Regions from separate parts of the Homo sapiens genome. Here region 2 is linked to region 1. Evidence: fine-mapped expression QTL. A gene starts in region 1. The other region holds a variant in brackets. All regions are shown on one strand. Distances are between the middles of the regions.

Evidence for each region. PIP is the estimated chance that this variant, and not a neighbour inherited with it, causes the effect.
Region 2: its variant is the best candidate, but not a certain one, in a credible set for the expression of SERF2 in whole blood (INTERVAL, PIP 0.60).

The regions. Positions count from the first base shown.
Region 1 is chr15:43,789,109-43,794,481 of GRCh38, forward strand. It overlaps SERF2 (small EDRK-rich factor 2), which reads left to right and starts at 3,212. Exons shown (of 3, transcript NM_001018108.4): 1 at 3,212-3,275; 2 at 3,867-3,975; 3 at 4,602-5,373. The coding sequence starts at 3,269. The coding sequence ends at 4,665. SERINC4 (serine incorporator 4) reads right to left here. Exons shown (of 12, transcript NM_001258031.2): 12 at 5,054-5,373. It overlaps SERF2-C15ORF63 (SERF2-C15orf63 readthrough), which reads left to right and starts at 2,868. Exons shown (of 6, transcript NR_037673.1): 1 at 2,868-3,275; 2 at 3,867-3,975. It overlaps MIR1282 (microRNA 1282), which reads right to left and starts at 4,651; the gene lies at 4,551-4,651. RefSeq lists enhancers at 1-414, 217-306, 2,707-3,906, 3,695-4,024, 4,360-5,213 and a silencer at 2,895-2,974.
Region 2 is chr15:43,749,676-43,755,048 of GRCh38, forward strand. PDIA3 (protein disulfide isomerase family A member 3) reads left to right here. Exons shown (of 13, transcript NM_005313.5): 2 at 4,149-4,227. Among named protein-coding and RNA genes, the nearest start is that of PDIA3, 5.9 kb to the left of the region's middle. The variant C/G (reference allele first, on the strand shown) is at 2,313.

The sequences.
Region 1 (5,373 bases):
ACTGCACTCCAGCCTGGGCGACAGAGTGAGACTCTGTCTAAAAAAAAAAAAAAAAGAAAAGTACACTAAATGTACCAAATAAAAACCCACCTGATGTTAGCTAGTAGTTATATTAGCAGTAGTAACTTGGATCTTGTCACAACCCTACCTCCCTATCTGACCTAGTTTCACACCACCCTGCTCATTAGGCATTAGTGACTTGCCCTTTACCTACACAATAATCCTGTGGCTCTTGATGGGATGACCTGAGGGAGGAGGGCCTTAGGGCCTTCACACGTGCTGTTCCCTCCTGAAATGTTCTCCCTGCCCTTCCCTCCTGGGCTTGGCTAATTTCTCATCTTTTTGCTTTAGCTCAAATATCACTTACTTCACCTCCCTAATCAAAATTAAAGTCTACAGAGTCCACAGGTGTACTCCCTTCATAGCACCAGCAGTACTATTTAGTTACTTCATACCAGGTGGAATTGTTCACAGAGTCTTCATTCAAATTACACTGACATCTGTTTTTATGGGTCAGTGCTTAAGCTGTGTGCACTGCGAAACATTTTGAATATCATCCTTGCGTGGAATCTGTTATTTTCCTTTAAAGCTATTATCATGATCAGTTTTCATATATAGGCTGGGCATGGTGGTTCAAGCCTGTAATCCCAGCACTTTGGGAGGCTGGGGTGGGTAGATCACTTGAGGTCAGGAGTTCGAGACCAGCCTGGCCAACATGGTGAAACCCTGTCTCTACTAAAAAAAAATACAGTCCGAGCACAGTGGCTTGCACCTGTTATCCCAGCACTGTGGGAGGCCGAGGCAGGTGGATCACCTGAGGTCAGGAGTTTGAGACCAGCCTGACCAACATGGTTAAAGCCTGTCTCTACTAAAAAATACAAAAATTAGCCGAGCGTGGTGGCACGCACCTGTAGGCCCAGCTACTCGGGAAGCTGAGGCAGGAGAATTGCTTGAACCTGGGAGGTGGAGGTTGCAGTGAGCCGAAATCGCACCACTGTACTCCAACCTGGGCGACAGAGCAAGACTCCATCTCAAAAAAAAAAAAAAAAAATTATCCGGGCGTGGTGGCGGGTGCCTGTAATCCCAGCTACTCGGGAGGCTGAGAAAGGAGAATCGCTTGAATACAAGATGGTGGAGGTTGCAGTGAGCCGAGAGCATACCACTCCAGCCTCCAGCCTGGGTAACAGAGTAAGACTGTCTCAAAAAAAACCAAAAATTCATATATATAGACAGACATATAAATACATATATGGATATTAGAGAGAGAGAGGCAGACAGGGAGAGGGAGAGAGAGAAAGTGTGAGAGAGCTTTTTTCTCTGTATCTTTCATGATTATAGGAATATGCTGTGCTCATCAAGATATACCCAATTGTGGCTGTGCACCGTGGCTCACACCTGTAATCCTTGCACTTTGGGGGGCCAAGGAGGGCGGATCACCTGAGGTCAGGAGTTCCAGACCAGCCTAGCCAACATGATGGAATCCCATCTCCAGAAAAACAAAAATACAAAAATTAGCCGGGCATGATGGCGGGTGCCTGTAATCGCAGCTACTTGGGAGGCTGAGGTGGGAGAATAGCTTGAACACAGGAAGCAGAGGTTGCAGTGAGCCGAGATCACGCCAATGCACTCCAGCTTGGGTGTCTCTTATTAACTGTTTATTTATTATTTATTTTGAGATGGAGTCTGGCTCTGTCGCCCAGGCTGGAGGGCAGTGGCGTGATCTCGGCTCACTGCAAGCTGCTGCTCCTGGGTTCACACGGTTCTCCGGCCTCAGCCTCTCAAGTAGCTGGGACTACAGGCGCCTGCCACCACACCCAGCTATTTTTTTTTTTTGTATTTTTAGTAGAGACGGGGTTTTACCGTGTTAGCCAGGATGGTCTCGATGTCCTGACCTCGTGATCCACCCGCCTCTGCCTCCCAAAGTGCTGGGATTACAGGCGTGAGCCACCTTGCCCAGCCTTTCTTATTAACTCTTTTTTTTTTGAGATGCAGTCTCGCTCTGTCGCCCAGGCTAGAGTGCAGTGGTGCGATCTCGGCTCACTGCAAGCTCCATCTACCGGGTTCACGCCATTCTCCTGCCTCAGCCTCCTGAGTAGCTGGGACTACAGGCGCCCGCCACCACGCCCGGCTAATTCTTATTAACTTTTTTTTTAGACGGGATCTCGCACTGTCGCCTGGGCTGGAGTGCAATGGCGCGATCTCGGCTCACTGCAACTTCCGCCTCCCGGGTTCAAGCGATTCTCCTGCCTCAGCCTCCCAAGTAGCTGGAATTACAGGCGCGCCACCACGCCCGGCTAATTTTTTGTATTTTTAGGGTTTTCACCATTGTTGGTCAGGCTGCTGGTCTCGAACTCCTGACCTTCTGATCTGCCCACCTCAGCCTCCCAAAGTGCTGGGATTACAGGCGTGAGCCACCACGCCCGGCCCTCCAGGGTCTTAATACAAAACCGGGTGGCTGGTGGCGATGGTACAGTAAGAAAAGCTCCAGAGGGGAAAAGCGAATATGTGAATTATCTAATCTCAGCCACTGATCCAACTCCATAGTCTGTGACTTTTGGAGTCCTCCAATACTTCCAAGCTGCATGTTCACATTTAAAGTTTCTGGGGGAAAACGAACAGGGTAGAGTTTTAGGAAATACCAGATGTTGCTGCGATTTTCTACAGTGAAGGGGCGTGGAAGGGGACAATGGGAGTAGAAGCGGGTTTCTGAAGTTGTGTTTGTACTTGATTTTAAGCGAGCTGTGAACAACTCGTGTCCAAATAAGTGGCTGAGAGGTGGTCCTAAGTAAGCACAAGTTTAGTAGTAGAGTACTCGTAACACAGAACTGGCTGAAACCCCGCCCTCTTGTCTACGGGCGTTCTTTCAGGGCGACTTTGTCAGTACCCCAAACTGTCCCCGCATGAGGTCACTCTGCACGGTCACGTGCTCGAGCCCGCGGGAGCGCCACATCGCCAGCCGCACCCCTCCACCCCCAACCTGCCCACGTGACCCGGCCTAGTTTCTCCAGGCCCGTCCCTACGTCTCACTCGGGAAGCCCCGCCCCACGCTGAGCGCTCCGCCTGCGACCCTCCGCCACTTACCCACCCCGGCTCAAGCACGACCCGTGGATCCACGTGCTTTTTCTTGTCCAATGGGAGCCGGCTCCCGGGCGCGAAGGGGCGGGGAGGAAAGGAACGACTGTGCTACGTTGCCAGAAGGGGCGGGACCTGCAACGTCCGACAGAACGAGGGGACGTAACGGAGGCAGGTTGGAGCCGCTGCCGTCGCCATGACCCGTGAGCACCGAGCCCCCTTCTCCTTGCCCTTTTCTTTCCGTTCACCCTAAACACCACCGGCGAGGCGCCGGCTTTGACCTTCCGTAGCTTCCCTAGCAAGGCGTTTCTCTGGGCGCGCTCTGTGGCCACCCTCACACTCGGTGCCCGGAAATCGAGCCCTTTGCCCACGGCTACTTCACGGGACCACCCTCCCGGGTTAGGCATAGGCCCTCCCGGATCTTCCGCGGTGTAAGGAGAAGGCCAGCGCCCCTGTGATAGGCCCAGAGCCCCCACTCCACAAGCCAGCCCATCCCCCACGGAGACCCAAACCGTCCACACACACCTTGCCAGCTGTTTGGGCCCCACGCCGCCCCAAAACACGCCTCCAGCTGGCCCCTTGGGACCTCCCTTCTCTAGTCCGTATTTTGACCTGGCCCGTGGCAGATTCGCCACTCCCCCCTACCCCAAGCAGCCTGGGCCTCGATGGGCCGTTGTCGGGGCCCGGAGATTGAAGTGGTGTTGGATCCTGCTGCTGGCCGCGCTGGGGTAGAAGGGTCGCCGGTGTGTGGGCAGAGCGGCCCCCGCGTCTCACCTTTAATTTTCTTTCCTTAGGCGGTAACCAGCGTGAGCTCGCCCGCCAGAAGAATATGAAAAAGCAGAGCGACTCGGTTAAGGGAAAGCGCCGAGATGACGGGCTTTCTGCTGCCGCCCGCAAGCAGAGGTAGCCCCAGGGAGGGGAGGGAAAGGGACGGTGGAGACCTGGGTTAGACCAAGGGTTATAGAAGGAAAGAGAGCTACCTCAGGGCTTGAATGTGGACTAGTCGTGAGGAGCAGAGTGCATTGCTTCCTCTAGGGTTTTATTTCCTCCCCACCCTCCAAATTGTTAGCTCACAGCCTTACAGGAAAGGACGGGGGCGGGCGCCTGCCCTCAGTCTGATTTCTGAGCGTCCCTGGGTCTGACCTTAAGGGCAAGGGCAGGGAGCTTCACATTTCAAATACAGTTGTGGTTACGGCAGCCCAGTACTTTTGGCCCTCCTTGCTGTTCGGTTCTCCTCCCTTCTCCCAACCTCCTCACTGGTGTTGCTGGGTGTGGTCCTCAATACAGAATAGAGACCCTTGGGCCTGTGTCACCAGACTTCTGACCCCTTGGGCAACAGCCAGATGGAGACTGGTCGCCTTTTGAGCCTCAGCTCTCTTCCTCTTGTTCTCCTAGGGTGGGAGTACAGCAGCCAAACGCTGAACTTAGTCCCATCCACTTCCATCTTATCCTTTGTGCCCTTCATCCCCCTGCATCTTGTCCTTTTTGCCCTCTGGTACCTCCCAGTGCCCCATCATCTCTACCCCCAGGGACTCGGAGATCATGCAGCAGAAGCAGAAAAAGGCAAACGAGAAGAAGGAGGAACCCAAGTAGCTTTGTGGCTTCGTGTCCAACCCTCTTGCCCTTCGCCTGTGTGCCTGGAGCCAGTCCCACCACGCTCGCGTTTCCTCCTGTAGTGCTCACAGGTCCCAGCACCGATGGCATTCCCTTTGCCCTGAGTCTGCAGCGGGTCCCTTTTGTGCTTCCTTCCCCTCAGGTAGCCTCTCTCCCCCTGGGCCACTCCCGGGGGTGAGGGGGTTACCCCTTCCCAGTGTTTTTTATTCCTGTGGGGCTCACCCCAAAGTATTAAAAGTAGCTTTGTAATTCCTTGAGCGCCTGGTTTGACTGGGGACTTGGGGGGATGGGGTTGGAAGAATGACTGCCCTTTCCCACCAAAAAAGGGAGAACTCTTTAGATTCAGATTGTGGGTATGTAGACTTAATAAGTGAAACATCACAGAAGAAGCCTTTATTATACAATGACAACCAAACAAGTACTCCGGATATGCAGTAGAGGAATCCTCTAAGAACCATAGAGACTTCTTTTCTGTGATTTTTGTTCCCCACCCTTGAACACCATCTCTAGGATGGAGTTGGCCTAAGAGTGAATGCTGCAAGATCTGTGTTTATGCCTCTTTTCCTCATTCTTCCTCAGTTTGTTCGTCTGCTTGAAAGTTGGCCAAAAAATCCTGCTGCTCACCGACTTCCCGTGGTCAGCTGCTGTCAAGCGTTCACTTTCTCTTCTGTCATTCCTCATGGAATG
Region 2 (5,373 bases), 39 kb before region 1:
CCAGCTATTTGGGAGGCTGAGTTGGGAAAATCACTTGAACCCAGGAGGCAGTGGCGAGGTAAGAGACCAGCCTGGGCAGCATGGCCAGACCCCATCTCTACTAAAAAATGACAAAAATTAACCGGGCATGGTAGCACACGCCTGTAGTCCTAGCTACTCAGGAGGCTGAGGTGGGAGGAGAAGATCACTTGAGCCTGGGAGGTGGAGGTTGCAGGAAGCTGAGATTGCACCATTGCACTCCAGCCTAAATGACAGTGTGAGACCATCTCAAAAAAGAAAGTAAAATGGGCTTTTTTTTTTTTAACCTTATTCTCGTCACAAAATAGACCTATTTAAGCAAATTCTTTTTCCGCTTTCATGTTTCAAGTGAAAGTGAAAGGTGAAAGCTTGCTTTGCTTGCTTTTTTTTTTTTTGAGACAGTCTCTCTCTGTTGCCAAGGCTGGAGTGCAGTGGCGCGATCCCGGCTCTGCAACCTCCGCCTCCCCTGTCTGGCTAATTTTTTTTTTTTTTTTTTTTTTTAAGTAGAGACCAGGTTTCACCATGTTGGCCAGGCTGGTCTTGAACTCCTGACTTCACCTGAATCACCTGCGTTGGACTCCCAAAGTGCTGGGATTTCAGGCGTGAGCCACCGTGCCTGGCTTAGTGAAAGCTTTCTTTGCAGTTGATTTTGTAGACTAATATTTCCATTATGGAGTTAATCTGCTATATATTTTTAAGGATAAGAGTATCTGAATTTCTCTGGGGAAATAACACTATTTAAATGTTTGGAAATGTCCGAAAATTTATTGATTAGTGTTAATATGTAATATTAAGTCCTTGGCCGGGCACGGTGGCTCACGCCTGTAATCCCAGCACTTTGGGAGGTCAAGGCGGGTGGATCACGAGGTCAAGAGATCGAGACCATCCTGGCCAACATGGTGAAACCCCGTCTCTACTAAAAATACAAAAAGTTAGCTGGGCGTGGTAGCAGGTGCCTGTAGTCCCAGCTACTCGGGAGGCTGAGGCAGGAGAATGGTGTGAACCCAGGAGGTGGAGCTTGCAGTAAGCCAAGATCACGCCACTGCACTCCAGCCTGGGCGACAGCGAGACTCCTTCTCAAAAAAAAAAAAAGTCCTCAACATCTATTTATGCTATAGATGTGTATGCTACCCTCTAAGACAGTAGTAATAAATAATGGCTGGGTGCAAAGGCTCACGCCTGTAATCCCAGCACTTTGGGAGGCCAAGGTGGGCAGATCACGAGGTTCAGGAGTTTGAGACTAGCCTGGCCAACATGGGGAAACCTTGTCTCTACTAAAAATACAAAAATTGGCTAGGCACGGTGGCAGGAGCCTGTAATCCCAGCTACTCAGGAGGCTGAGGCAGGAGAATTGCTTGAACCTGGGAGGTGCAGGTTGCAGTGAGCTGAGATCATGCCACTGGACTCCAGCCTGAGTGACAGAGCAAGACTCCGTCTCGAAAAAAAAAAAAAAAATAATATATGTGCTAATTTCTTTACTTGTAATCCCCACCCCGAGTTGATCTTTTCAACATCAACATTTAGCTCATATTTTTTTTTTCCTTCCCTGGACAACTAACTGGTTGATCCTGCCTCTCTATTGGCATCTAATAATACTGTGTCACCCCTGCCAGACTGGTGTTCCTATAAGGAAAGGACTATACCAATTTTCTTATCAAAGACACTTGATAAGGCACTTATCAAAAAGTACTTGACGCATGGCACACATGATGAAGTGATGATTATGGGTGAATATATGTTGGAATTCATTATCAACTGCCAGGTGCCATCCCTGAGGATAGATAGAATTAATTGTGTTTTAATATTTTCTAGGGGTGGGTGAAAGAAGTAGTGGTTAATCTTGAAGGATGTATGTTAACCAACCCTGATTTCCCTTAAATACCACCTGAGTTCCATTCCTGCTGGATTTGAAGAGGAGAGTCTCCTCCAGCCTCATTGAAACTCTTTTTGTGGATTTGATGACCTTATGGATATTGCCAAAGTTTAAGGCAGTGGATTTTAGTCCCAGCCTTGCAGCTTACACACACACCTGGTTGCTCCCCAGATTTCTGGAGATTCTCATTCAGTAAGCCATGCATACTTTTGTTGTTTTAATGCTCTGTGGGTATTTTTGATAAGCATCTAGAGTTGACACCTACTGGCTTGACCTAGTAACTATTGTATGTGATTTTTTTCTCTTAAAATGTTTGAAGATAGTTGAAACAATTAACTCATAAATCTGTTGCCTCAGCCTTGACAACTACTATATATTCAACAGAAATCTCTCATCTGTCTCTTCTTTATTCTCATTGCTG[C/G]CATTCCGGTCCAAGCTTTTATTGTCTGCCATGTGAAATATATTATCTTCTAGATGGCTTTACTCTTGTCTCTATTTTCTCCCTTTCTGTCAGTCTTTGACATTGCTGATTGACGTAGTCTTAGTACACGTGCACGCACATTTATTATCTCACAAAAGCCCTTTACAGTTCTCTGAATGCATCATGCTTACTGGTATTCTTTTACGTTTGCTCTACTATCTCCCTCATCTTAAATACCCTGCCCTCTTCTCTCTGAAGCGTTAAATCCTTAAAGACCCAGATCCAATTGTTACTCCCTTTAAAATCCATTTACTATGCAGTATTAAAGGAATACAGAGGATATAATGAATAAGACCCTATTTCACACACATAAGATACCACTGATTGTGAGAGGAACTATCTTGTGTCTCACTGAGAAAGAAATACTACCACTGAAACTATAACATGACTGCAAAATACATCTTAATATCAGGAAAAAACAATGAATCTGAAATACAGCATAAGGAATAGCATTTGTTTGCACTCAGTCTGAAAAACATAGCCAGTACATTTGAAGTCCCCTATGTGCCCCTTTACCATCTTATACACTCCTTTATCTTGAATTTGGTATTTATCATTTGGTTCTTTTATACTTTAATAGGCCGCCTGAAGGCCTTGGAGAATAAGCTGTTATAATCCTTTATTTTAAACAAGTTTTAGGTGTACAATATTTCCAAGTTATCCATCACTTGATAAAATTACACCATTGACTATTGAAATATATCTGCTCAAGTTTCTTCTCTATTATATTTCTATTTTTGCTGTCTACGGGAAGGTTACAGAACTCACCTTCTCAACGTGATCCCTCTGCAACCCTTTGGCTTTTGAAAAGGTGATGTACAGCTGGTGCTAGCTGTATATACACTGATTAGGATTTTCTGGGCAGAGGAGCCGGTGCTTCTGGTGGCCCTCTGGGAAAGGTATTCTAGTTTACATGTTTTGTTATCACTTCTCATGGCTAGGTGAACTATGTAGCTGTAAAAATCAGGCCTGCCATCTAAAAGACTTAATATCATACTTGAGACATTACAGGGTTTCAGTCACAATTTTGTGTCCCCACCCCCACCCCGAGACAGAGTCTTATTCTGTCACCCAGGCTGGAGTGCAGTGGCGCGATGTCAGCTCACTGCAACCTCCACCTCCCAGGTTCAAGCAATTCTCCTGCCTCAGCCTCCCGATTAGCTTTGATTACAGGTGCCCACCACCACGCCTGGCTAATTTTTGTATTGTCAGTAGAGACGGGGTTTCACTATTTTGGCCAGGCTGGTCTTGAACTCCTGACCTCGAGTGATCTACTCGCCTTGGCCTCCCAAAGTGCTGGGATTACAGGTGTGAGCTTCAGTCACTATTTTTAACAACCACAATGCTGGTTTCCCAGGGAATTGTATTTTCCTCTGGGGAATTCTATCAGAAATGGGATTATTTCTATTTTGTCCTTCATTCAGCCTCATTAATTGGTCAAAAGGGCATTAACCCATTCAACCCTCTTTAATAATGTGGCGTACACCTTTGACTACAGCTTTCACAACTTAGTTATACTTTGTATTGAGAAAATAGAGCTGCCCTGTGCTGAGCCAGTACTATGGAGTCAACCTCAGTCTAGGGGTAGGACCTTTACCTCTTGAGAGTTCTGGTTTACTTTAACAATAATGAATGTTGTTCATGTGATGATTTTGCTTTTTGGAAGTGTCTACTAGCTCAAAGGTAGTATTATAGTTTGAGATTCTTCCTAGTGAGACAACATTAACAAATTCATAGGACTAAACTGAGAATTTGGCTTTTTTAATACGTATATAGGTGTGGACACTGCAAGAGACTTGCACCTGAGTATGAAGCTGCAGCTACCAGATTAAAAGGAATAGTCCCATTAGCAAAGGTAAGTACAGGTGGATTCTTCACTAAAGGACGTGAAGTATTTTAAAAAGTAGTTTGTTGTCTCAGCTTTGTTACATGGAAAAAAATAACAGTAATAAATAGTTTGTAAGATTAACATTCATTTTCTCTACTCTTATTCTGCTAAGAAGAGCGAATACTAGTTTCTGGGCAAATACACAACTGACTTGTAGTTTCAAAAGATTAAAAGTAGTGGCTGGGCGCAATGGCTCATGCCTGTAATCCCAGCACTTTGGGAGGCCGAGGTGGGTGGATCACGAAGTCAAGAGATTGAGACCATCCTAGCCAACACGGTGAAACCCTGTCTCAACTAAAAATACAAAAATTAGCTGGGTGTGATGGCACGTGCCTGTAGTCCCAGCTACTCAGGAGACTGAGGCAGGAGAATTGCTTGAACCCAGGAGATGAAGGTTTCAGTGAGCCGAGATCGGGCCACTGCACTCCAGCCTGGTGACAGAGCAAGACTCCGTCTCAAAAAAAAAAAAAAAAAAAAATTAAAAGTAGTGAGAGTAAGGAAATTACTGGCATAAGAAGTAAAATAGACCAGGTATGGTGCCTCACAGCTGTAATTCCAGCACTTTGGGATGATTACTTGAGGCCAGGAGTTTGTTGCCTGGGCAACAAAGCAAGACCTCATCTCTACAAAAAATTTAAAAAGCTGGGTGTGTTGGCTCACACCTGTAGTCCCAGCTTCTCAAAAGGCTGAAGCAGGAGGATTGCTTGAGGCTGCAGTGACTAGACACTGCACACTACTAGACTCCAGCCTAGGTGACAGAGTAAGACCCTGTCTCTTAAAAAAAAAAAAAAAAGTGTAATCCCAGTACTTTGGGAGGCCAAGGCAAGTAGATCACTTGAGACCAGCCTGGGCAACATGGCAAAATTCCATCTCTACTAAAGATACAGGCAGGCTTCCATAGTCCCAGCTACTCAGAGGCTGAGGTGGAAGGATTGCTTAAGCCAGAGAGGTTGAGGCTGCACTGAGCTGTGATTGAACCATTGCACTCTAGCCTGGGCAATAGAGCGAAACCCTGTCTCAAAAAAAAAAAAAGTAGTAAAGTATATGGTAAATAAGAATTAAAGATGGAAAGCAGAAGTACAGCTATAAAGGTTAAAATAATCATTGAGGCTG